Linked DNA regions of Homo sapiens. The protein of the gene in region 1 purifies or fractionates together with the protein of each later gene. This does not show direct contact. Each region holds a gene or a part of one and is shown on either strand. Other genes may lie near its edges. The genes, in order: RPRD1B, RPRD2, POLR2M and GPN1.

Evidence for each region.
Region 2: the proteins of RPRD1B (region 1) and RPRD2 purify together in Homo sapiens (affinity purification with mass spectrometry; 6 studies listed by BioGRID and IntAct, with this or other methods). This does not show direct contact.
Region 3: the proteins of RPRD1B (region 1) and POLR2M purify together in Homo sapiens (affinity purification with mass spectrometry; 5 studies listed by BioGRID and IntAct, with this or other methods). This does not show direct contact.
Region 4: the proteins of RPRD1B (region 1) and GPN1 purify together in Homo sapiens (affinity purification with mass spectrometry; 4 studies listed by BioGRID and IntAct, with this or other methods). This does not show direct contact.

The regions. Positions count from the first base shown.
Region 1 is NC_000020.11:38,043,736-38,050,768, reverse strand, and holds part of RPRD1B (regulation of nuclear pre-mRNA domain-containing protein 1B), read right to left. Parts: intron 2,424-7,033; exon of another isoform or gene 2,422-2,423; coding exon 2,288-2,421; exon of another isoform or gene 2,167-2,287; coding exon of another isoform or gene 2,151-2,166; intron 1-2,150. UniProt on the Homo sapiens protein: Interacts with phosphorylated C-terminal heptapeptide repeat domain (CTD) of the largest RNA polymerase II subunit POLR2A, and participates in dephosphorylation of the CTD by RPAP2. Transcriptional regulator which enhances expression of CCND1.
Region 2 is NC_000001.11:150,472,127-150,477,079, reverse strand, and holds the end of RPRD2 (regulation of nuclear pre-mRNA domain-containing protein 2), read right to left. Parts: coding exon 3,746-4,953; 3' UTR 514-3,745; downstream 1-513.
Region 3 is NC_000015.10:57,709,706-57,716,738, reverse strand, and holds part of POLR2M (protein GRINL1A), read right to left. Parts: intron 4,756-7,033; coding exon 4,551-4,755; intron 2,204-4,550; coding exon 2,060-2,203; 3' UTR 1-2,059. Other genes in the region: GCOM1 (GRINL1A combined protein), read right to left, coding at 2,060-2,203, 4,551-4,755.
Region 4 is NC_000002.12:27,639,021-27,646,053, reverse strand, and holds part of GPN1 (GPN-loop GTPase 1), read right to left. Parts: coding exon 7,023-7,033; intron 6,012-7,022; coding exon 5,929-6,011; intron 4,815-5,928; coding exon 4,775-4,814; intron 4,012-4,774; exon of another isoform or gene 3,885-4,011; intron 3,626-3,884; coding exon 3,535-3,625; intron 3,487-3,534; exon of another isoform or gene 3,162-3,486; intron 1-3,161. UniProt on the Homo sapiens protein: Small GTPase required for proper nuclear import of RNA polymerase II (RNAPII). May act at an RNAP assembly step prior to nuclear import.

The DNA.
Region 1 (7,033 bases):
CCTCTATTATTGTTAATGTCTGTCTAGACTTTCAAAAAAAAATCAGAAACCCACTGAAGCTATTCCCAATACTATCACTGCCACAAATTCCACACATTCCCAGAGTGCAAACCTATTCCTCACTCTTTTCTCCCTCTTTCCTATAGCATCTAGCATATCTGTTTATTCAAAGTATGTGTCCAGCAAATGTACATTAAATTGAAATTCAACATTAGCTTCAAACATCCTCTTTCAAGGCTCTCCTACTTGCCCAAAGGTGTTCTTAAAAACCAGCACTGTTTACCAATGAACTCTAAGGCAGAGTAAAGAATGCTGAGTAATTCCCCAAAGCTGTACTGAAGACCTCCAAAGGACACAATAAAAACACCAGAATCCAAAGCAGGAAACATCTTGCTTTTCAGAAGCTACCAATCACCTGAGTGATCCTAAAATTATCTTCTAGCAACACCAAGTAAAACAACAATGACCTGCAGTCTGAAAGCACTTATGTCATTCACAGAAAGCCTCTAACCTTTGGTTTCACAGGAAAGTTACCCACTGCAAAATGCAAATAATTCCAGACCTGGAAAGGATCATGAAGGGTACACAAAAGGGTTACTCAGTGAAGGATACTGTCACACATGCTAATCATGACTAGGTTCTATAGCAGATGCATGTATAAAGTACCAGAGAACAAGGAGGGAATGACCACATGGGCCCAGACAAGCCAGGGAAGATGTCAGAATGAGAGTTGCATTCTTGGAGAATGAGTTCATCACACAGTGAAAGCGGTAGAAGGACATCAAGTAGAGGTAACAGCAGATGGAAAGGAAGCAGTGCCAACAGAGCATCCAGAGGGTAAACTGTCGGCAATTCAGTTTGGCCAAAGAATACAGTGTAAGTGAGGAAGTGGCAGGAGAAGAATCTGGAAAAACAGGCTAGTTCAGATAGAAAGGGTCTTCAATACTATCAGTACTTGGACTCGATCCTCCAGGAAACATGTATGCAGGCAGATCAGATCTGTAGCTAAGAAACATGTCATGCCAACTAGAATTAAACCACAACTAACCAGAAGCCAAGTAACTAAACAACATTTGATCTTACTCTTTAAAGAAAAAAATAGGCCAGGTGAGGTGGCTCACGCCTATAATATCAGCACTTTGGGAGGCTGAGGCGGGTGGATCACGAGGTCAGGAGTTCAAGACCAGCCTGGCCAAGATGGTGAAACCCTGTCTCTACCAAAAATACAAAAATTAGCTGGGCATGGTGGCAGGTGCCTGTAATTCCAGCTACTCGGGAGGCTGAGGCAAAGAACTGCTTGAACCCGGGAGGCGGAGGTTGCAGTGAGCTGAGATCATACCACCGCACTCCAGCCCAGGTAACAAAGCAAGACTCTGTCTCAAAAAAAAAAAAAAAAAAAAAGAAAAAAAGAAAGAAAAAAGAAAAAATAATATAAGCTCTTATTAAGGGCTTTGCAAAATTCACACACAGATGCACTTCCTAAAGATATCCTGGGTTCAGTAAAGATCAAAATCAGTTTTAAGCTGGGCGCAGTGACTCACACCTGTAATCCAGCACTTTGGGAGGCCGAGGCGGGCAGATCACTTGAGGTCAGGAGTTTGAGACCAGCCTGGCAAACATGGTGAAACCCCGTCTCTTCTAAAAATACAAAAATTAGCCGGGTGTTGTGGCAGGTGCCTGAATCTCAGCTACTCAGGAGGCTGGGGCAGGAGAATGGCTCGAACCCAGGAGGCGGAGGTTGCAGTGAGCCGAGATCACGCCACTGCACTCCAGCCTGGATGACAGGGTGAGACTCTGTCTCCAAAACAAACAAACAATCAACTTTAGACAGACACCATGCTGACAATCCTAAGGATATGTTTCAAAAGCACATCTACATTTAATTAAATCAAGTTCTTAAAAAGCTAAGAAACTTATCCAAGGTCCTATTGTAGTTAATGGCAGAGCAAGGACAAAATCTTAGTCCAGGCTACTTCCTAGTTCACCACAACTCTGAACAACTTTGTTGTTCCTTTCCTTGTGCAAGGAAAGTCTCTGAAAGACAGAAGCAAGCCAAGGAGAACAGAGAGCAAAAGTCAGGGTGTGAGAGGATGAATAGCATGAATACTAGAACCAGGCTTACACGCTGTGAGCACTACATAAATTCTCACCATCATTCATGATCATCTGTCTCTCTGAAGAATCATAAAATCGCTGGTGGTTCACAGCAAACCCCACTGCAGCTTTTCATATTTGATTCGAAAGTAGGCAAAGACCAAGAGCTGTAAACATGTGGTGATGTTTCTACCTTTGGGGGGAGGGCTCTTGGAGTCCTCCATAGACAGCTTCAGCTGCTGTATGAACTCGCCGCCATACACACTTCGTTCTTGCCAGATGTTCAGCAATCTTTCTAAAGGTTTTTTACAGCCTTCATCTGCCTCTCTGCCCAGAAAAGATGAAAAGATATATATAAGCTTAAGATTTTTTGCTTTTAATTAGGACAGACCTACTTAAAAAAAAAAGAAATCAACAACTGACTAAATGATTTACACATTTAAAACCAAATAAGGTACATATTGTAATACCTGGATACCCAAAACTTGACCACAAACTACATTCTTCGTGCAGTGGGAGGGATCATGCCATAATTGAAATCAAATAGGACCAAAAGTCAATGGCCAATTTTTACAGACAGAAAATTATCAAAACTCCATCTTATCAGTTGTGATAGCTTGCTTTTTAAGAAGACGTTAATTAAAATGCCAGACATTCTGCTGGAAATTAAAAGTGGATCAGAACTCTTAAAGATAGAAAAATGATTTTAAAAAACCAGATGTTTAAAACAGGAAATAAATTCACTGCAACTCATCAATTCTAACACACCAACACCTCTACATGTATAAACACAATCACATACATGTATATGTCAAGAATCATTCCAGTTCTAACCACTGCATAATTATTTTAATTCTGGGCTAAGTCCATAGTCCAGGTTCACACAAAGGTATCTGATAATCTTAGAACACACTTAATAATGCAGTCCTTCATAATTTATATCAAAGGATATGAATTAGAAGTTAGAAAATGTTTTCCCCTGACATGTTAACTCCTGAAACAGGATATAAAGGACTATAACTAGCACTCACTGAGAACCAATTGCCTACAATAAAATCTCAGACAGCAAGCAGAAGATTGGGTTAGACTTTCTGAAAGCAAAGTGAATTCAGTCACCATGCACTGTTACCATGAAATCTTCTGTTTTGTGAGGGGGTTTAAATGGCAACGATCTTATACTGAATGACTTTAAACAAGAAGGGATACCTCGACATCTTAGTATCTAAGTTAAATGGCTTTTAATAGGAACTTCAAGGAGAAACCATGCCAATTCAACTGAGATGGGAACTCTATTCACACCCGACCATGACAACGCTTTCATAAACTCAAGGAGAACTTAGGTTTCAGCCTAGCCCAGTCAGAATGTCTCACTTATGAATTATTAGTGGTAAATTTCACTGACTAAAGGACTCAATCAGAGTACATAAAAATTAATTCTTTTTTTGTTAAACTTTTTAAAGTCAGAAGTGAGGGTTCGGGAAAAAAAAGGAAAAACATTTCTACTGCTAATTTTATAAAGCTTAAAAATATGACCCAATTACTTGGTATTTGTGATAAAACACTTTTACTCCACCTTCAAAATATATCCGGAAATGAGTTATTTCTCATCTTTTCCTCTGCTATCAATCTGGCCCAAGGCACTATCATCTCTCGCCTGCATTACTACAGTAGCCTCATTACTGGTCTCCTCGCTTCCACCCTTGTCCTCCTACAACCTGTTCTCGAGTTTTCAAAATACAATTTTAGCTGCTGTACTAAGGCAGACCACGTCACTCCTTTGTTCAAAATTGCCAACATTTCTTCCCAGTATCCCTCAGAATAAAAGTCCTTATAAAGACTCCAAGGCCTTTCCCAACCCAGCTGTTATTTCCCTGGCCTCATCTCCTACCCACTCTTCCCCACCCCCGTCCTCCAACCTCCTGCCTCAACAACAGCTACCCTAGCACTGCCTCAGAGCCTTAGCACTTCAAAAGTTTGCTTTGCCTGGAACCACATTCCCCATGTGGCCACACAGCTCAATTCCTCTCCTCCTTCAGGGGTATGTTTAGTTACACCACCTTCAGTGTGTCATTCCCTAATCTCCACGTTGAAAATAACACTCCCTGCCCCTACTCAATTTTTCTCCATACAACTTTTCTGGTATGCTGTATATTCAATAGTTTACTTTTTGTTTACACGCTTTCCATTTGAATGTAATTTCCACAGGGGTGCAGATTTGTCATTTTCTCCCATTGCTATATGCCCTTGAACAAGCACAATGAATATCTGTCAAATTGTAATCTTTTCCAGAAAAATGTATATGGGTTTCGGTAAGTAATACAGTTACTTAACTTTCAACAATCATCTTACTGTATCAAGGTCATGGCAGAAATCAACTAAGCACTCCTCAGCTCGACCAATGAAGGTTTACAAAGAATAAGAAGGCCTGGGTCCTGACCTCTAGGGCTCGACTCAGCAATCCCTCAGACCTGTTTTTAGTCTCCTTTCCCTACCCTACCTGGAACTTTGCATTCCAGCAACACCCACCCGTATGTATTTGCTACTCAGAATTTGTTCTCTCATGTGCATGTGCCTTTGTTCATGCTATCTCTTCTCCTTCAAATGGAATAGCCAAAATTGAACAAGGCAAAGGGAAAGGAGTAATTCAAGTAGCTGAAGTATATGGGGGAATGTGCGGAAACTGCAGAAGAATCTGGAAGGAGGGTGGAATTCAATTACAGCGAGCCCTGAATGCCATATTAAAGCACGTGGCCTGCAGGCAATGGGAGGTCCCTAATGTGAGCAAATGTATAGCTTAGAAAAATAAAGTCATTATAATTAGTAAAACCAAATTGCAACTAATCAGAACTTAGTTAATGAACTAGCTGGTACTTTTAGCATAAAATCTGTTTGCTGCAGATTCTCTGTTCGCTTAAAAGAAAGAGAAACCAGTCTCGAGAATAAATTCTTATCAAGGACTTAGTTTAAAAGTAGGTGGGTATCACAACACACACCCACCACCCACCATTCCTGGAGATACTTGGGACTCCATTCAGGCTAAGACTGGTTTTGTGTACAGTTTCAGGCACAGTGGAAAATGATGCTCAAACCTGTTATAACCACAAAACATTTTCAAAAGGCTTTTACTACTAAAGGCCAAAAGGGGGGTTCTAGTTTAATTAGTGAATATAACTAACCAGGACAGATATTTCCTTGAACATTGTGGTAAATCAAAGTTTTGCTAGATAAGTTTCAAAGTTATACATAAAATATTCAAGAAATCTTTCTACTGATTAGGTTTTGAAGGAAGTAGCTCCAGCGAAATGGAAGTCACTTTGGCATCTGGAATTAGATACAACCAAAGTAATAAAGCCGTTTTATAACAGAAAGAGAAATATTTTCAGGTTGTACTAACTCCAATCTAAACTGAGAAATCTTTAAGTGGAAAAAAAGACTGAACAATCTTTGCCAACAATCTATGAATAAAGTGGAAGATGGCAAATAATTACATACACAACTTAATATTACGTTGAACACTTCATATTTTAATTCTGATTAATAACAAATTCAATCACTTTATTTTTCAATACAGATAGCAAAACTGACCTTTAAGAGTGAAAAATGTATATGATACACACAAACAGAATTGGCTGCTTGACGTGTCAGCTGGACACCTGAGTCCCTGCAAAGCCAGCCTTGGGGGCCTTTTCTTCCTCTACAGTTCTATGGCACTTTTTCAGTACAACCACAGTAATTTGTACAACTCTGTCTTATCTCATGCACAGCAGGCCTATGGTAGGCCTACTAAGGGCAGGAATTCTAAGTATTCCCTACACTTCCAACAGTACCTCATGTAAAGCTGGTTCAGAAAGGAGTTAACACAGAAGGCCAGACTGCTACCCTTAGGGAAGTGGTCTGGGAACTTGGGATTTCCGAGTGTCCCTACCATTTCCTAACTGGTAAGGGTGGTTTACTGGGCCTAAATTGTTTGTGCAAGCAATACGGTTCTTAATGAACACCTGAGCCTGGCGCGGTGGCTGACGCCTGTAATCCCAGCACTTTGAGAGGCCAAGGCGGGCAGATCACAAGGTCAGGAGATCAAGACCATCCTGGCTAACATGGTGAAACTCCGTCTCTACTAAAAAATACAAAAAATTAGCCGGGCATCATGGCGGGCGCCTGTAGTCCCAGCTACTTGGGAGGCTGAGGCAGGAGAATGGCATGAACCCGAGAGGCGGAGCTTGCAGTGAGCCAAGACCAAGCCACTGCACTCCAGCCTGGGCGACAGAGTGAGACTCCGTCTCAAAAAAAAAAAAAAAAAAATGAACACCTGATTTATTTCTGGGAGCTTAGAATTTTGGCAGAGGGTGTCTACATGACCAATCCAATAAAAACTCTGGGCACAGAGTCTTTAATGAGCTTTCCTGGTAGGTTACACATCATACACATCACAACTCAGTGCTAGAGGAATTAAGCGTGTTTGTGGAATAACACTGAGAGAGGACTCGGAAGCTTATACCCAGAGCGCTCCAGTCTGCTGCGGGTACTGCATGCACATCACCCTCTGCTGCTGCTGCTGCTTTGGATCCTTTAGCTGTAATGAATCACTGCCATGACTATGACTACATGATGAGCCCTGTGAGTCATTCTAGGGAATCACCAAACCTGGGAGTGGTCTTGGGGCCCACAACAATAAGTAAATATCATGTGGGTAACTCTCAAATTTATGTCTCCAGAAATCAAGTCTCTACTGAGCTTCAGACTATTTTATCCACCTGCCTATTTGGCATCACTCCTTGGAATATTCACTAGCCACCTCACACTCGGCCTGGCCAAAACAAAACTCGTGATTTCCTCCACCAAATCTTTTCCCCAATCTTCACTTCAGTAAAGGGCACCATCAGTCATTCCTTACATCAAAAACCTAGAAATCGTCTTTGATTTCTCTTTTCACTTACTA
Region 2 (4,953 bases), on another chromosome or scaffold:
GCCTTCAGTGACATTAAGTGCAGAAGTCAAAGGGGACATCTGGAAAAGATCAACAGGAGGGGAAAAGTCAACCACACAACAAAGGAAACCATACTTTATTAAACTGGAAAACAAAATAATGGGGACAAAGGGATTAAAAAAAAAAGGAACGTCTGGAAGAGAGTAAAGTGCAAGTGGTTACGAAGTGGGTGGTCTGTGGTATCTCTGTGTGTGCCTGAGAAATGTGTGGGCGCACACACCACTACTCCCACCCCCATACCCTTGGACCAAAAGCCAATACAACCATATCTTCTGAGATATATCCAGGCTTTTCCTTCTGCATTCTCTAGTTGGTTTCACCTTCGGCCCTGGACAGTCAGGCTGGGTCTTTGCTAGAGAAAACTTAGGTTTTCCAACCACAGGCCTGCTCCACAAAGCAGCGGTTTCAGCTCCTGAGAAGTTCCCTCCTATTTGCACTCACTAGGAAGCCAGGGGCCCCTGGTCCAAGCCCGTCTCAAAGAAAAATGTCAAACCTTTCAAACTAGTTATTTTATTAAACGATATTAACACACATTTCAAAAGGATTTCATTGTTGTTGCTTCTAAAGCATGTACTTGTTTTGTTTTCCACACCGAACACGTGAGAATATCAATCCAACATATCTATTTTAGATCTTAACAGGCGCCCCCGCCCACTTAAAAAAAATAGTGGGGGAACTGGGGAAAGCAGTAATTTACAGCGGCTTCAAAACAGTAACAGCTGAAGCTCAATTCTGCAGGAACCGGTAACTTCAGGATTGAGAGTGAATATCCTGCCATTAGGAAGTTTATCGTATTCACATTATCTCGATAGGTTTGCTGGACCCATATATATCACAAACATTTTATTCCTGGTATTGGAAAGTATAAAAGTCCTATTCTCTGCTTATTTTCCCCTCCCTGGAATCAAACCAAATTCTATTTACTCTCAACTTTTGAGAGGGTAGAGGGGAGCAGGGAGAGAGCTCTCATCTAAGCTGACTGAAGAGTAAACTCTTTCAAAATACTTAAGGACCCTATTTCTGAACTGTATCACTGAACTTTAAGTGGTACTAGTGTATTCACAACCCCTACCAATTCTCTGTCTGTGATTTTACAGTGAGTACCAAGGACCTTACAACTTCTCACATTCTGCTTCCATATGAATCATGTCCTTGCTAAGACACACTATGTTATGCTTTCTTTAAAAAATATCTTGTTTATTTGTTTAAACTCAGGTTGAAATACAAAAGTCAGAGCATGGTCACGGAGTTTTAAATCACAGACACAGAAAGAATAAAACCCCTTTCTTTCACGTTATGAATACCAGAACTGTCTTTTCTGTTTCACTATTTATCACATATATACACACTGTCATCTTCATTTACTGATGTAAATGTAAATTTTAAGATTTCCTTAAAATTAATAGCTGACAGTCTCATACAAATCCTCACTTCCATCCTAAAACAAACATATTGAGGATTTTGTGGCTTAAAAAACAAAAAAGTACCCCACAAAAACCCAACTCCTTAAAAGCCCACCTTCGAAACTGTCCAACAAAGTCTTCCTTTCATGTATTAACCATCATACTTTTGAGGACAATTATCCCGCCCCAACGTTCAGGAAGCCACTTTCCTGACATCCCCACATTTTCTGATAAAAATTAAATGGTCAGAGAGCCTTATCAAGTAAACACTACTTTTAGCTTAAACAAGAGCAGCAAAGAGAATTCACATTCTTTTATTCTAGAATGAAAAACATCCCATTTAATTTCTGCAAAAAAAAAACCTATTTCAATTTTGAAAGTCAAATATCATTTCCCCACCTCCCACCCCATTTTCTCTTATGCTTTTCCCTAACAAATGTCTTAGGACTCAATATAACTATACTTTCTTTTCTTTGCTACACTACATACCCCATCCCACACGTAAGGTCATGGTATCATGCATTTTTGTGGGGAGAGCTACAGGGCAGAGAGGGTCGAGGAAAGAAAGAACAGTTGGCTTAAGACCAGACAGGCATTAAGAAGATGAATGACCTGCAGCATCCTAACCCCAGAACACATGGCGAGCCCAAATAAATAACAGAATAAATTACGCAAAAACTCCCAAATCATGATGTGCACCTGGTTTATGCTGCTCTTTCTCTGAAAAGTTCATTCTGAGAGAATCATTTTCTGTCACTACATTGCCCACCCTCCCCCATCTTTAATATTCTACTGGAGGAAAAAGCAACCCCATACTTCCTATAGTTAGTTCTATACTAACTTGGAAGAAAATATGAAACTTGCCAGAATTCTCTGGAAAACTAAACACATACTGTTTTACTCATCTAGCTGGAGATTATCAGTTGAGTATGCCTTGGGGTAAGACACTAAATTAAAAAAAAATTGTAGTAAAGCAACATTTACTTTTCAGTGTCCCTAGATATAAAGATATAAACACTCAAAGTACAGTGATTGTCTATTTCCCAAGTACTAGATGTAGAAATACAAACAAGTCTTTCAGTCCAGGGAGAAGGAAAGCACTTATCTTGCATGTAAAACAACTAAGGGCAGAAATGGTCTTTATTTCCTATTGGGAGCGAGAGGTGGGGGTAAGACTTGAGCCTTGAAATGGGATAGACACATGTGTATAATATAAAGGAAAATGCTACTGAATCTCCTCCTTTAAAATATCAAGAATAGGGGTGAATAACACGACTGAGGCAAGGGGAAAAGGAAGATAAAGACAAATATTTCTTTCTTTAATAGTTAACCTTTGTTGAAAACCACCAATAAATATCACTTACATTAGGGAGGCACCATGGTAAAATTAATGTCTACTTCTTATATTTAAAAATGCAGGGATAATATTTCTGTTGCACCTTTGTATCAATAGTCAACTGTAGTGACTGTCTTTCTGGCCACAGCAGAAGAAAAACTGAGGGAGATAAAGTCAAAAAGGAAAAGCAAGAGGCATGAGCTTGGTGCAAGACATGTGAAACTACCTTGAAAACATTTCCTATTCTCTTGTTTACAAAAAAACAGGCAGGTCACATCACACCATTAATGCTTCCTTTCCTTATTTTACATACTGTAGTCACTCCTTATTTTAACCTTGAGGCTGATTAAAAAAAGATTTTAGGAGAAGGGTAAAGAACTAAACTTCAACATGCCTTTAAAAACAAAACAAATAAACCTGACAGGTTCAAGGTCTCTCACATTTCCTCCCTTGCAACATCTCTTGGCTGTTAGCAGGACACAGATACACAGGGAAGGGAGCCGAGCTGGCTACAGCAGTTACTAAGCTGCCGAGAGAGGGGACGGGAATCCTTCCATTGACTACTCGATAAGCCAAGCCCAAAATAACATCCCAACATTGCACATGTGGTTATCTGTACTGATGGAAGTTTTATTTCAAATGTAATAATACTCTTCAATAGATGGGGTAAAATAAAGATTGTTTTCCTCCCCACTCCCCAACCCCCCAGCCAAATGAAATGGCTTTGGTTGTGTTTCTTTACTTTTTTTTTTTTTTTTTTTTTTTAATACAAACAACTTGGGGAAGGTAGATAAGTGCAATGGGAGGGAGGATTGAATTGAATAGTAAAACGTAAGCGTATGTGATTTCTTACTTTGGAAGAGAGGCCCTTTGTTATAATAAAAAAAAAATCGAGAAAGAGAAAACAAATAAAAACAACAACAATAAACCAAACTCCTACTTCCAATGTTCTCTAGACTGTTCAAAATGCCTTTCCCTTGGTTTCCATCAGTACCTGGGAGGGAAGAATGGGCGTTTTGGTGCAAAGAACGGAGGGCCCCTAGCAAAAGGTGGCCTGGGTCTCTTTAAACTGTGAAATGGGTCTCTGCTGAGAAAAGGTTCCCTAGGCCGAAAGTCTGGCCGGGGACTCCGTAAGATTATACCACTCCGGCTGATGGTGTCTCTGTGTGAGGGACCCAAGGGGGGGCCACTGCTGCTGTTGCTGCCTCCCCCACCTCCTCCTCCATGGGGTGGGCCCAGGTGTTCCAGAGAATGGGAGGGTAGGGTGAGGCTCTCTCGTACACGGCTAAGGCCAGGGCCGTTGAGGTCCCGTTGGGTGGGGCCCCCGTGGTCCCTGGGTCCTGGGAGTACCCCAAAATGCTCAGCCAGGGTCCCTTGAAGGAGGGAACTATGGTCCTTGGGAAATACTGCCACAGCCCCTGCCACTCCGTGCTCTGCCAGTGGTGGGGCTGGGAAGGGTACAACTCCAGAGTGGTCAACAGGGGGTGGAGGAGGGGGTGGAGTAGAAAAGGGGACACCACTCCCACCACTGCTGCTATGTTCCCCAGGAGGGGGAGGAGGAGGTGGGGTAGGGAAAGGAATTCCACTGTGCTCTCCAGGAGGAGGGGGTGGGGCAGCATGGGCCAGGGCTGCCTCCTTTGTGAAGGGGTTCGAAAGATCCACAGAGGGTAGATGAGTGGGTGCATCTCGAGAGAAGATACCACCATGATCCTTAGGAGGGACAGGTGGGGCAGATGATGGCCCCACTGGCTCTCTCTGGAAGGGTGTCCCATGTTCCAAGGGGGATGGGGGAAGATGATGCTCAAATGTTGAGTTGAAACTGTTGGAACGAAAGCTGCCGACACTCTCCTGAAATTGAGGTGCCCGTTCCTTGTATGGTGCTGTTTTAAAGCCAGTGAGGCCTCCGCTGCCCCCACCCCCAAGGGATGCCAACTCAGAGGCACTTGAAGGGCCATTGTCAAAAGAGCTACCTGATGTGCTCAGATCAAACCAACCCACCCTTGAAGCCTCACGCCCATGTCCTCTATTTCCCTTCCCAGGAACTCGGATGGACTCTACGGTCTGGATCGGCTCCCCTGACATCCTCCTATTGGATGCACTGTGATAACCCAAGGTTTCTATAGGGGCCCCCTTTTCTTCTGTGCTATCAGGCAAGTCTAAGCAGGAGGAGGAGACGCGGGTTTCTATGCGGTAGT
Region 3 (7,033 bases), on another chromosome or scaffold:
CTTAAGAACTTATATGCCAAAAAAAGAGCAAATTCTCCAAGCAAGCAACAGAAAAAATATGAATGAGCAATTCTCAAAAGAATGAATATAGCATGGCCAATGAATATGAAAAAAAACACAACCTTCACTAAGTAAGAAAAACAAATACAAATTTTAAATGTAGCCCTTTTCTGTAATTATTCAATTTGCAAAGATTTTAAGTAGTAATTTTCAATTCTGAGCATTGGATATATTGCTAATGGGAATGTAAATGAACATGATCTCTGCAGTGAGTAATATATATAAAAATTCTCAAAAACACTTTCACCTAACAATTTCATTTTTAGAGCGGTATCTTCTGGAAATAAGTCATTTTCTATGGATGTGATTAAGATGTTAATCATATCACTATTTACAGATTACATTATAATACATAATCAAATTGCTGAATAGGAAATAAATCTTAAAGTTATGGTATACCCATGAAATAAAATATCCTACAGCTGTCTAAAAAGCAAAATATTTAATATGGGAACATATTGACAATATATAGAGCAGACTACAAAGCAATGTACATTATGATTTCATTTTTGAGAATATAAATGCATAACTATGCATAGAAAAATAAGCAAAAACACAACATCAAAATGTTAACAGAGTTTATCTCCCTAGATGGCAGGATTACAGGGAACTGTGTGTCCAGGCACATGAACTCTTCCATATCATCCAGCTTCCAGAAATAACATCAAATTTTACGCTGTGAAATCATTTACTATTCGTTTTAAGAACTAAAACTAATGAGAATCTTAGGTCAGTATACTTTTCACATTTGCTTGAGGGGGGTAAGGAATGAAAGCAATAATTACACCTGGAAGCAAATGTGAACAGTCTTTTTCGAAAGGAAAAAGTTGTATTTAATTAAGTCCCGGTAAAACATCACCTTAGCATTTGAAGTTGTTCTAATTAATATTTTATTCTTCAACACTTTTAAAGACTCCAATATATTAGACAAAGAATTTTTTGATAATGTAAGTTAATTTCTCTGGAGACAACCATATAATCCTCTAAAATGACATGAACGTTTATATATGGGACTGAAGCTTCTGCAGTCTATATATACCTATTTGGGGGGAAAAAAGTAAAGTACTGACAATTCAATTTTAACAAAAAAAAAATGCTTTCCTTATCAAACATTAATGTTGTGTACATGAACCTATCATCTGTGACAGCAAGGAACTCAAGCCAGGTGATGCACAAGCCTTCACCCAGCTCAGTTAGCTTGGGCTTCTCCTGTACCAGATTTGCCTGAAGTAACATGAGGTTATTTAAAAAGACCTCCACCTAGATTGCAGTGAGCCGAGATCCTGCCACTGCACTCCAGCCTGGGCGACAGAGCAAGACCCCATCTCAAAAAAAAACACAAAACCAAACAAACAAACCAACAAAAAAAACCTCCACTTTCCAGCATCTACTCAAAAGGGAAGTCCTTCCTAATCAGAAGAGAGATAACGTTCTTCCTAAGGGAAGACAGAAAAAGGAGAAGAGCATTTGTTAAGCATTCTCCATACATGTCTTCCTAGGTATTTCACATCCAATGTCTCAATAACCCCATGCAAACATGCATACAATTCTTTAGACTGCTCCCTTCATTACCCAAAAAAGAAGGGAACTATGTCTTCCTAATTGATTTTAGGTGCCTGGAACAACTAAGTATTTCACTGAAAGACATGTAATAAATGCTATTTGATAGGTAAGAAAAAGGAAAAAAGCAAAGTTACCTCTTTTCATTTGGCTTAAAGAAAAAAAAAGTATGTTCTACTATATACTAAAATATCAGACCAATACACAATATATTGCAAAATTTTAATACCATGTGGTTAAACACAATATTCAAATATTAAACTTTTCAAGCACATGAAAGTCACCTTCTGAAAGACAAACTGGGCTTTTTTTATAACTACCTTTGTGTAACTTTATAAAATTACTTCCCTCAACAATATCTGACACTGATCTTGATACTAGTTAGAAAGTCTGATGTAAGATGATGACATCTCAACGTCAGTGATTTAGGAGATTATCTTCAGAATTCATCAGAGGACCAATCGTCATCTTCATCCCTTACTTCTCGGTATCTCCCTGAAGACTCCCCTTCTGGATTATAACTCCGCATTTTAATATTCAGTCTTTCAGCTAATTTTTGCGCTGCGAGCTTTGCTTGCATCTCCTTTAAAACAAAGAGCAAAGCACAAAGTTACACGTTCACATCTCTTCCTTACAATTTTTCAATGGGAAGTTACCTAGAATCAGCAATAAGAGGGACACTGACACCTCACTGAGTGCTCCCTTGGGCAATACAAGCCTGATGGCTGTGCCCTATCAGACACAACTGGGTAATGCTTCTGACAGCCACCAGCCTGCTACAGTTGAAGTTACTGACCTCCATTAATATACAACATTGCACTGAAATACACTCCTCTATATAAGAAACTGAGTAATGAGCTTAGCACTACAATACTTATAAATACAGATGCGTTAAATATGGGGGCACATGCACATGTATACACACTCACATAACAATTTGACCTATCAAATGTCAAAAATGACTAATGCTGGGGCCCGGTGCAGTGGCTCACGCCTGTAATCCCAGCACTTTGGGAAGCTGAGGCAGGCGGATCACGAGGTCAGGAGATCGAGACCATCCTGGCTAACACGATGAATCCCCGTCTCTACTAAATATACAAAAAATTAGCCGGGCGTGGTGGCGGGTGCCTGTGAACCCGGCGTGTTCCCGGGTTCACAAGAATGAACAAGAATGGCGTGAACCCGGGAGGCGGAGCTTGCAGTGAGCTGAGACTGCGCCACTGAACTCCAGCCTGGGTGACAGAACAAGACTCCGTCTCAAAAAAAAAAAAAAAAAAAAAAAAAAAAAAAAAAAAAAAGAAGGACTAATGCTGTCTAGATTTCTACAACTGACAGGACCTTCTTCCCTAATTACAATCATGACTTCCAGACTTGGGAATTACATTTCAATGGCAAAATGAAAATCAAGAAATTAATACTAAAAAGCTGACTATTCCTCTCCAAATAAAGTCCTACAGCAACTAGTATCCAATAAAAAGTCCAAGTAAATTTCAGACACTGGCAATGTACTTAAAAACTCCCAAGGACTTTACCACCAACTGATGGTAGGTGGCAATGTCATTCCTAATTCAGTTCTTCCCTTTTCTCATGCTTTCTTGAACTTCTTGATGTCCTCCTCTTCAAGCCATGAATATGGGTCAGTAAAAGTGGGAGCTATTACCACTACAACTTCTCTGCTAAAAAAAAACAATTTAAAGATGAAGGGTTTAATTCAACCTAAAAATATCTTAGGACAGGCATTTAAGAGCTCAGAGACAGTAAACACTTCCTCAATGCTACAGCCATAACTAGACAGTCATTTTAATGCACTGAAAGAAAAATGGTTTTTTTCAAAAAGAGCACCTTGATAATGCCAATCCATGCCAAGGCTTTTATGAAAAGCCAAAGCAGATTAACAGCCTGTTTTGTTGTTTTTTTTTTTGAGACAGGGTCTCACTCTGTCACCCAGGCTATACAGAGTGCAGTGGTGTGACTGCGGCTCACTGCAGCCTCGACCTCCTGAGCTCAAGCAATCCTCCTACCTCAGCCCCACAGGTAGCTGGAACCACAGTTGCATGCCCCAATGCCCGGCTAATTTTTTGGTAAAGATGGAGTCTAGCTATGTTGCCCACGCTGGTCTCGAACTCCTGAACAGTCTGGTGTTATACTAGTTGGTGCACTAGTACCTGACTAAAATCTAGCTAATCAATACCTAGGAAGTGAGACAGGATACTGTTCTCCTGGAGGCTAAAATTATTACTAAATACTTCTAAACTTTTCTGTTCCCCTATGGTCCTTCACACTTATTTTCTCCCATCCCATTATTCTGTATACAAACTCTCAACATACATGTTTGAAGTTCAATGCAAAACACATGGAAACAAAGTGCTATGCAAAATTGATTAAGCTGCCAAAAGCAGGAGATATTTCTCTCTTCACATGGGCCTGCAGATTATGCTCTAAAGCAGTGTCTCACTGTCTGCTGGCTACACAACATTATCCTCCCACTCCTTCTATGCCCTCCCCTGTACTGCAGAAGATGGAAGCCTGGGAACTACATTCTCCTCATTCTCTAACAAGGGGTCTGGGTTTGAGTCCGCCACTGAGAAGCTGTCACATGAGTTTTACAAGGTGAAAGGGAGAGATGCGATGCTACTACTATCCTAACAGGAACAGGCAGGTAAATGAGCTTTAAGACATGAAATTCTACAAGTCTCCCCACATCTCCAGGCAAATCACCACTTTAATGTTGAAGGTAGCTGTGATCATCTCTAGCTACTTCCTGCAGTTCTAGCAACTTTGTGACTCTCTGAAAACTAGTGGCATAGATCTGAGCTCATGGAAGCACCTAATCCCCTCTATTCCATTCCTTCCTCCTTGAACCTGGAGTAAATTCTAGCTTATGTAAGCAGCACCCAACAAACAGACAAGAAAAAAAATACTCTAAATACCTCATAATTCTGTTTCTGCTGTTTCTGAAGTGCCAAGGATTCTTCTATGGAGAGCAGCTGCGTGGGCATATGGTGAAGTGGTAGAAGCCGAGCTGCTGTGATGTCATCAAGATGCTGCTTATCCCTGCGCCGCCGCTCTTCTGAGGAAATAGGAGACCCACTCTTCTGGCAATGACTAGATGAATCATTTTGTCGAAAAGGTAACCTGATGAAAGGAAAACTTGTGTTATACAATCAGATTATTTTATTTGTAGACACATTTAAAACATTCACACAAATGGCCTTTACCTTAGCAATTAATTCTCCTCCAAAGGTAACAGTAAGTAATTTACCAGTATTCATTGCTCTAACAAATAGGGGTGTGTTTGTGTGCATACAGGCTCTTTGCCTTTTCCTTCCTTATTCAAACCTTGTATTTCATCTGGAGTTTTTTTTTTTTTTTTCATTTATTCAAAGAACATTTGCAAAAGGGCTTATTGCCCAGTAGAAAGAAATACACATGTAAAGTTTCAGTGCAATACAATACCAGAGATACTGTGATAGATATCTCAACAAGATACATTGGAACATAAGGAAATGGCCAGTTCTAGTGGGAGACAGGGAGGCTAAGAAAAGTTTCAAAAAAGCTTTGAACAGTCTTGGAATAATAACTGCTTACCCATGTAAATAAGGAGAGAAGTGCATCCCAGCAAGGGGAGTGAGAGAAAGTACAGAAGGTAGACAGACTCAGCTTTTCTGGCTACACAGAAAAGACAGCGAGAAAGAGGGCTGGGAAGTAGCCTAGGCCCAGACTGCAATGAAGAGTTCTCCGTAACAAGTTCGGATTTCCATCTTACAAATTTCACTCTGGCAGCAGTGGAGATAGACTGGTAGTTAAGACTAGAGGTAGAAGGGGCCACAATTACAGCCCGAGAGAGATGAGAGTCTTCACTTCGACAGAAGATGAAGAACAATTATAGAGATGAAGATCAAAGAAATAAGTAGGTCTTCATGGCTAGCAGATATGGAGATGAGAAAAATCGAAGATACCTTAGGGGAAGAAAACCGAGAAGGTGGTGGCACTATTAGGGAATATGGAAATCACCTTGGAAAGAAACTGCAGTTCCACTTTGTACATCATTAAGCTGAGGTACCTGGGAACACCCAAGTGATCAAGTTTCATGGTTAATTGGCTATGCAAACCTAAAGTTCTGGGAAGATCTGGGATAGAGGTGCACAGGGGTCAGCCTCCAGCATCCAGGTGATACATGAAGCCAGAAGAGTATGCAGAAGGAAGAGCAGAAAGGACCCAAAGGACACTACCTGACCCCACCTTCCAACCTCCAAGCCACCTCTCACACGGAACCCTCTCAATCCCTACCTGTCTATGGCCTAAGGACTCCTCAAAGCCCTGCCTTTCCTGTTCTCCTCTAACTTATACAGGAGGCTCCCTGTCTCTTAAACTTCCTGAATTCTTGGTAGCCCTCTTCACTATTCCCTTACCTCTCTCCCACTCCCAGCTAAATGACCATAATACAGAACTGGGATTAATGTATTCTTTGTTTTATTTATTGACTAGATGATGGTTCTAGTTTTCTAAAATGTCATCCTGGAAGTGAAGAAAGATACCCCACTGTACACAAGAGAGTACTTGATCACGTTAATGTAGTATAATCCTGATTTTCTATACAGCAGAAATAAAATGTTTTGAGGTTAAAATGAATGCTGGGGTAGAATTAAAGTCTAACAAAAAAGAAGCATGTTTTAGATACTTTTCACTAGAGGTTTTCTGTTTTTCAAAGAAAGGTAGTAGTGATTTAACTTTGATGTTACATACTTGTAAATACAATATAGGAAGAAGGTACCAGTTACCTGAGTTGAATGTTACATTTGCTGCAAGTAAATAGCAATTATTTTCAAAAAGATTTTACTTTTCCTGAAATTTCAGAAACAAATTTATGGCAAGGAACTGATAAGCAGAGTTTTTGCCTATCCTGCCTGAATCTATTTTCACAGTTTTTCAAACCTCTTCTCAGCTTCCTTCCCCCTGAAACTGTTATTATTATGTAGCTTAACTCTTTTCCAAGTGTGTAAACCTTGGGTCCTCATGTAGCTCTTAAACTCCTTGAAGAACATGGTATTGTATTACATTACACATGTATACATTACAGCCATGTTTTTAAACTTGAGATTTAACATCAAAAAAGGCAAAGGAGTTTTAAGAATCTTGACTTAATTGTGTCCCCACAACACCTGCTGCTTGCTTACATACAGTGAGCATGCAAATAATTTCTGCTGGAAAGCCCATCAGCTCCTGCAATTGCTTTACCCTTAGTTCACAGACTAATCAAAGAGAGTACACTTTGATAGTACACTAATCAAAGCTGTACACTAAAAAATGGTTCTGAAAAAAAGAAGTCATAATAAATTCTCTCCAACTCTGTGTTTATTATGAAATACTGGCTAAGCATCCTAAAATTTAACACTCCCCCATGTGCTTTAAA
Region 4 (7,033 bases), on another chromosome or scaffold:
AAATACATACATACATAAATTTCAAGCTGGGTACAGTGGTTCACACCTGTAATCCCAGTACTTTGGGTGGCTGAGGTGGGCAGATCACTTGAGCCCAGGAGTTCGAGACCAGCCTGGGCAACACGGCAAAACCTCATCTCCACTAAAAATACAAAATTTAGCCCGGCATGGTGGCAGGCACCTCTAGTTCCAGCTACTTGGGAGGCTGAGGCAGGAGAATAGCTTGAACCCAGGAGGCAGAGGCTGCAGTGAGCCAAGATCACACCACTGCACTCCAGTTGGGGTGACAGAGCAAGACCCTGTCTCAAAACAAATACATAAAGATGATTTGTTTTAAAAAAAAAAAATTAAAAAGAAACAGGCAAAAACTCTTGGTCAAAAAGGTTGGCTAAAATAACAAAAACATTTTAAAAAGAAATAAGAAAAACCTATATATGGAAAACTGGAAACACTCCTGAAAGACACAAGTAGACCTGACAAATACAAAGACACTCTGTGGTCTTGGGTAGCAAGACTGAACATCATAGAGATGTCACTTCTCCCTAAATTAATTATGAATATAATGTAATCCCAACTAAAATACCAAAAAGCTTTTTTAAGGAACTAGATAAAGTTGATACTCAGTTCATATGGAAGAACATGTAAGGACAGCCAAATAAAAATTAGGAGGAGAATCTGATCTAGCAGATATTGAAACATAATTACATAATTAAAACAACATGGTACAGGCATAAAAGTAAGGAGTCCTTGCTCACCAAAGCAAGTTAAAAGAAAAAAAAAATGGGCTGGGGATGGTGGCTTATGCCTATGATCCCAACACCTTGGGAGGCCAAGACAGGAGGACTGCCTGAGGCCAAGAGTTCAAGACCAGCCTGGGCAACATGGTGAGACCTCGTCTCTATTAAAAATTTCCTTAAAACTAGCCAGACGTGGTGGCACACACCTGTAGATCTAGCTACTCTGGAGGCTGAGACAGGGGGAATGCTTGAGCCCAGTAGTTCGAGGCTGCAGGGAGCTATGATTGCGCCACTGCACTCCAGCCTGGGTGACAGAGTGAGAAACTATCTCAAAAAAAATAAATAAATAAACAGTCCAGTGAAATAATATAGAAGTATACTCAAGTATGCATGGAACTTTACTACATTTAGAGATGAGGTCTGAGGCTGGTCTGGAACATTATACACGTAGCATCTCAAATCGCTGTTACAAGCCAGGTGCAGTGGCATACACCTATCCAAACTAGTTGGCAGGCTGAGATGGAAAAATCGCTTGAGCCCAGGAGGTCCAGACCAGCCTCAGACCTCATCTGTAAAAAAAAAAAAAAAAAAAACACTACCAAAAAAAAAACTCACTAAGGCAAAGGCAGACTTTTAAATAAATCATACAGATACAACTATTTATGAAAAAAATAACACCGACTTATATACCTTATACTATAGCCAGGAATAAACTCTAAATTAATCGGGGATCTCAATTTAGAAAATAAAACCAGACAAATCTATAAAAAAAAATAGGTGAATTCCTCTTTAACATAGGTATATATAGAGGCTTCCTAACTGTGACTTAAAATCCCAGATGCAATAAAAGATAGATCAATTTGACTACATCAAAACAAAATAAGAACTTTTGCATGGCAAAATAACACCGTGAACAAAGTCAAAGGATAACTGATAGGGAGAAAATATTAAACATTTGCAACATATAATCACAGAAAAATTGATATTCCTATTATATCAATGGATATTAAAACTAATGGGTGAACATTAGAAAACTAAAAGGATATTTATAGTCTCAAAGCATCACCCCACAAAATTCTTATTACAAACAGAAAAACAGCCATATTTAAAAATAGTAATTTTTGTTGTTGTTGTTTTTAAGATGGAGGGAGTCTCACTCTGTCACCCAGGCTGGAGTGCAGTGGCGCGATCTTTGCTCACTGCAACTTCTGCCTCCCGGGTTCAAGAGACTCTCCAGCCTCAGCGAGTAGCTGGAATTACAGACATGCACGACCACGCCCAGCTAATTTTTTGTATTTTTAGGAGAGATGGGGTTTCACCATGTTGGCCAGGCTGGTCTCGAATTCCTGACCTCAAGTGATCCACCCGCCTCGGCCTCCCAAAATGCTGGGATTACAGGCGTGAGCCACTGCGCCCGGCCTAAAAATAGTAATTCTTTATGAAAAACGTAGCATACACCACTTTATAAAAATACTCAAAGTTAACATCACCAGTAATGGGACAAATCAACATCACGTGCCTCCCAATGTGATTCCTTGAAAAAACACAATTCAAAAATTAGTCACCTGAATCAAATCATGAGGAAACATGAGACAAACCTAAACTGAAGGATGCTCTATAAAATAACTATCCTACATGCTTAAAAAATGTCAGTCATGAAATACAAAGTCAGACTAAGGCACTGTTCCAGATTCTAAAGGAGTATAAGGCATGTGAGAATTAAATACAATGCACATCCAGATTTTCTCCTGCTATCATGGGGAAATGGCTACATCTGAATAAGATCTATATGTTAGCTAATATTATAGTATTATGTCAATGTTAATTTCCTGATTTCTGATAACTGCACTGAGGTTATATAAAATTATATCCTTGTTTTTAGGAAAAAGACACTGAATTATTCAAGGTAAAAGAGTATTATATCTGTAACTTACTCAAATGATTCAGGAAAAATATATATTTATATAACATATAAAGTCATATATAGATAAAGAATAAAGTAAACATGGTAGAATGTTAACATTTTGGGAATCTGATAGAATAATTATGGCAATTATTTGTATTATTCATGTAACTTCTGTAAATCTGAAATTAAGGTCAAACTGTAAAAAAAAAAAAATTTTTTTTAATTATAAAAAAAATTGAGGAGGGTTAAAAGTGTTAGAAACAAACAAAAAAAACCACCACAGCACACATCAAGTATATTGCCAAAGTAAAGCAAAAACTTCCTGAAAGAGGAACCCAAAGTGGTAGAGCTGTATATAATTTCAAATTTGCCTTTCCAAATCCTTTATTTTTTAATATATATGTATGCATATGTATGTGTGTGTGTGTGTGTGTGTGTGTGTGTGTGTGTGTATATATATATATATAAAACCACATTTCCTTTATCTTTTTCTCTTTCTCTCTCTCATATATAAACAGAATCCTGCTGATAGAAATAAGTGTAACCGGCCAGGCACAGTGGCTCATGCCTGTAATCCCAGCATTTTGGGAGGCCCAGGTGGGTGGATCATCTGAGGTCAGGAGTTCGAGACCAGCCTGACCAACATGGAAAAAACCCCATCTCTACTAAAAATACAAAATTAGCCGGGTGTGGTGGCACATGCCTGTAATCCCAGCTACTCAGGAAGGCTGAGGCAGGAGAACTGCTTGAACCTGGGAGGTGGAGGTTGTGGTGAGCCGAGACTCCAGCCTGGGCAACAAGAGTGAAACTCCGTCTCAAAAATAAATAAATAAATAAAAGAAAGAAGTGTAACCTTTTTTTAGTTCCTAACACCAAGAAACCCTCCAATACCTTTGGCAGTCCCTGCATCCAAGGCTACAGAACCCATATCTTTTCGAAGGCGTTCCAGTTGTTCTCTCTGCTGTTGGCTCTCTGCGTTGGCCTGTATATACAGAGAAAAATGTCATCATATTCAAAAAGGAGTCCCAAATTAGATGCCAGACTTCTCAGTGGAGATGAAGAATTATACAAATACTAGAGGCTACATAAAAACTGATGCAGATAAGGGACGTCTGGTATAGGGACAGAAACACTAAGTAGCGTGGGCCTGGGTTACTGCAGAAGTTTAGACTGGAGGGCTCTGCAGACTGATTTAGAGGGTTCAGAAACGGAACACAAAAAGGTTTCAAAAGAACCCTCAATTCTAAAGTGTTGAGTTCAGTCCAGGGTGGATCCCCTGCTCTGTTAATTGAACTGGAACATTTAAACTGGCTAGGCAAAATGCCTACATAGAAAGCATTACTCTTTATTCATCCCCAGCCTACAAAATGAAAAAACAAAAGATACAATAAACTTTATTATATGGGGGAAAAAAAACACAAAAACCTGAAGTAGACATAGCAGGAAGGCTCAGAGACAAAGGATCCAATGAGCCTAAGGAAGCAGGACACTCGATCATTTGGGATAAGAGAAGGCTGGGCATGGTGGCACCTGCCTGTAATCCTAGCACTACAGGAGGCCCAGCAGGGAGGACTGCAGGAGCTCAGGAATTTGAGACCAGCCTGGGCAACACGGTGAGACCTTGTCTATACAAAAAATTTACAAAATAAAATTAGCCAGGCATGTGGTACATACATGTTGTCCTAGCTACTCGGGTGGCTGAGATGGGAGGATCGCTTAAGCCCAAAAGGTCGAGGCTGCAGTGAGCCGCGATCGTGCCACTGCACTCTGGCATGGGTGACAGAGTGAGACCCTTTCTCAACAACAAGAAAAGGAGTTGTGAAGCACCACTACACTCTTATACAAAATTCTACAACTAGCTTTAAATTGACCTCTGAAAGGGAAGAAACATTAAGGAGACTTTCCGCACCCAGACAACATACATACAAATTTACAAATTTAAATTAACAAGTATTTAGAAGATACACTGAAATTTCATTAGCCACTTGTACCTCAATAAAGCTACAAAAAAAACTTTTTTAATTAAATAAAAGATACATTAATAACCAAAACAAAAGCACTTATGTCATCAAGATTGAGCTGGGTTTTTTTAATGGCCCTTTTAAAATATACAAACAGCCTCCCTTCTTACCAGTGATTTTTTCAGACGTTCATATTCAGGACGATACTCCCTGTAAAGAGAAACACTTTCTAAATTCCTTTGCTTAATCCTCTATCCTACTGACTCTCCACATCCCCTTATCTCTATTTTCCTAAGACTGACAATAATAAAACATCTGACTTCATTCAACATCAGATGTAACAAATCTTAGTCACTGACAGAGTCTACCCAATGGAATTAAAAGCCAAGGTGCCCGCTCCCACCTTGGAACCAGGAGACACAATCCTGACTGCTGGGCTGGAAAGATTAATATTGGTGAGAACATGACTGATGAACTCACCATTCATTTGAGATAAAAGGGTGAGATAAGTAAAAGATAAGCCTGTTGAGCTCAGGACGTGCAACATACAATTATGTGCTTTACTTGAACAACAACAGTGAAAGGATACAGAAAAGAGTCTATCCTAAGGTTTTGATAACACCCTTGTGTCTAATGAATCAAAATCAAAATAACATGTCTGAAAACCAAAATATGGTTGTTAGGATCTTGCAAAATATGAAGCCAAAGACACATGACACTAATAAGCCGGCTATCATGCCACAGGCCTAAGGAAAGTGCACAGGGCTCTGACTCCACTTTTCTTTACTTGAATTCCAGTATTAACAATGACAATAGTTATAACATTTATTATAAAATGTGCTTACTATATGTCAGCAATTGTGATAAGTGCTGTATACGTTTTCTCAATCTTCACAACAACCTTAGTGCCAAATCCAGCCCACTGCCTGTTTTCATAAATGTTTTTCTGTAACACTAGCCACGCCCATTAATTTACAAATTGTCTGAGGACGCTTTTGTCCTACAATGGCAGACGTGAGCAGTTGCAACAGAGACTATATGACCCACAAAGCCTGAGCTACCTACTGTTTAGCTCTTTACAGAAAAGTCTGATGATCCCTGCTCTTAATCACTCAATACAATGAAGATTTATACTTCTATTTAAAAAAAACAAAATTTAAAGGGAACTTGTCACCCCTAAGTGTGGTCTGATTCAATACACATATGCAAACCAAATATAATACATCCATCATGAAAATGTAATGCTTTTCCTGGAAAAACTGCTTTCATATCAGAATTGTAGGTTATTAAGAATGTCATCAATAGAATTTTCCTTTATCCTCACCTTTCATATTCTTCGGCAGCACTGGTAACTTGCACAAAGAGTTCATCTAATCCAGTACCCAGAACAGCAGAGACACCCACCACCTGCCAAAAAGCATCATAAATGCCACTAAAGAAACCATTGTATATTTTTTAATGAAGTACATTAACTTGTTTAAATGTCATAAAATCTTAGTAAGAGTGGTTTATATTTTGAGAAGTCTTTGGCAAAAAGCCAGGCTAAAAAAGAACAAAACAGCACACCCAGTCAAAAGTCACAGAAATAAGTCCATGGAAAATAAAAAATTGAAAAAGAAAGATATGGCCTGAGTGCAGTGGCACATGCCTATACTACCAGTACTTTGGGAGGCTGAGGCAGGAGGTGCACTTGAGGCCAAGCATTCAAGACTGGCCTGGGGAACATAGCGAGACCCCAGTCTCTACAAAATATAAAAAATTAGCTGGGTATGGTATACCGCACACGCCTATAGTCTTAGCTGCTTGGTAAGCTGAGGCAGGAGGATCCCTTGAGACCACGAGGTCAAGGCTGCAGTGAGCTGTGATCCTGTCACTACACTCTGGCCTGGGTAAAACAAAGCAAGATCCTCTCTCCAAAGGGAAAAAAGAAAAAAAAAAGATAATTAGGACTGAACAATTAACAGGACTTATTATCTATTCCCTAACAAACCAAACCAAATCACTTTCTGCTTTGTCTATGTCTTTCCTTGGGCAATTAACCCATTCTGCCTTTGCTTACATAAATCTTACCCTTCTTCAAAGCATACCTCTAATGCTACATCCTCCAAAATCTGTCATTTTGATCTGCCGCCTCACAATCATCAGGCCCAACTTCCAATCTTTCTTAAGGTACTTACTACAATATATCATATGTTTTAATTCTGTGTGTAGCCTTCTCTCCCAAATAGACTATAAACTCTGAAGCTGGGGTCCCTATCTTATTCTTCTTGTACACTCCACAATTTTTAATAAGCAATGCTTTAAAAGTTACTTTTCAGTAGGTAATAAGCTTCCTTTCTCAGCCAGGTTCAAAGCCAATCCTATGGGTTAACAGATTATCTGGAGAGGCTGTCAGTGTGAGCAGGAGAGAAAATTTACCCTGAGTGAGC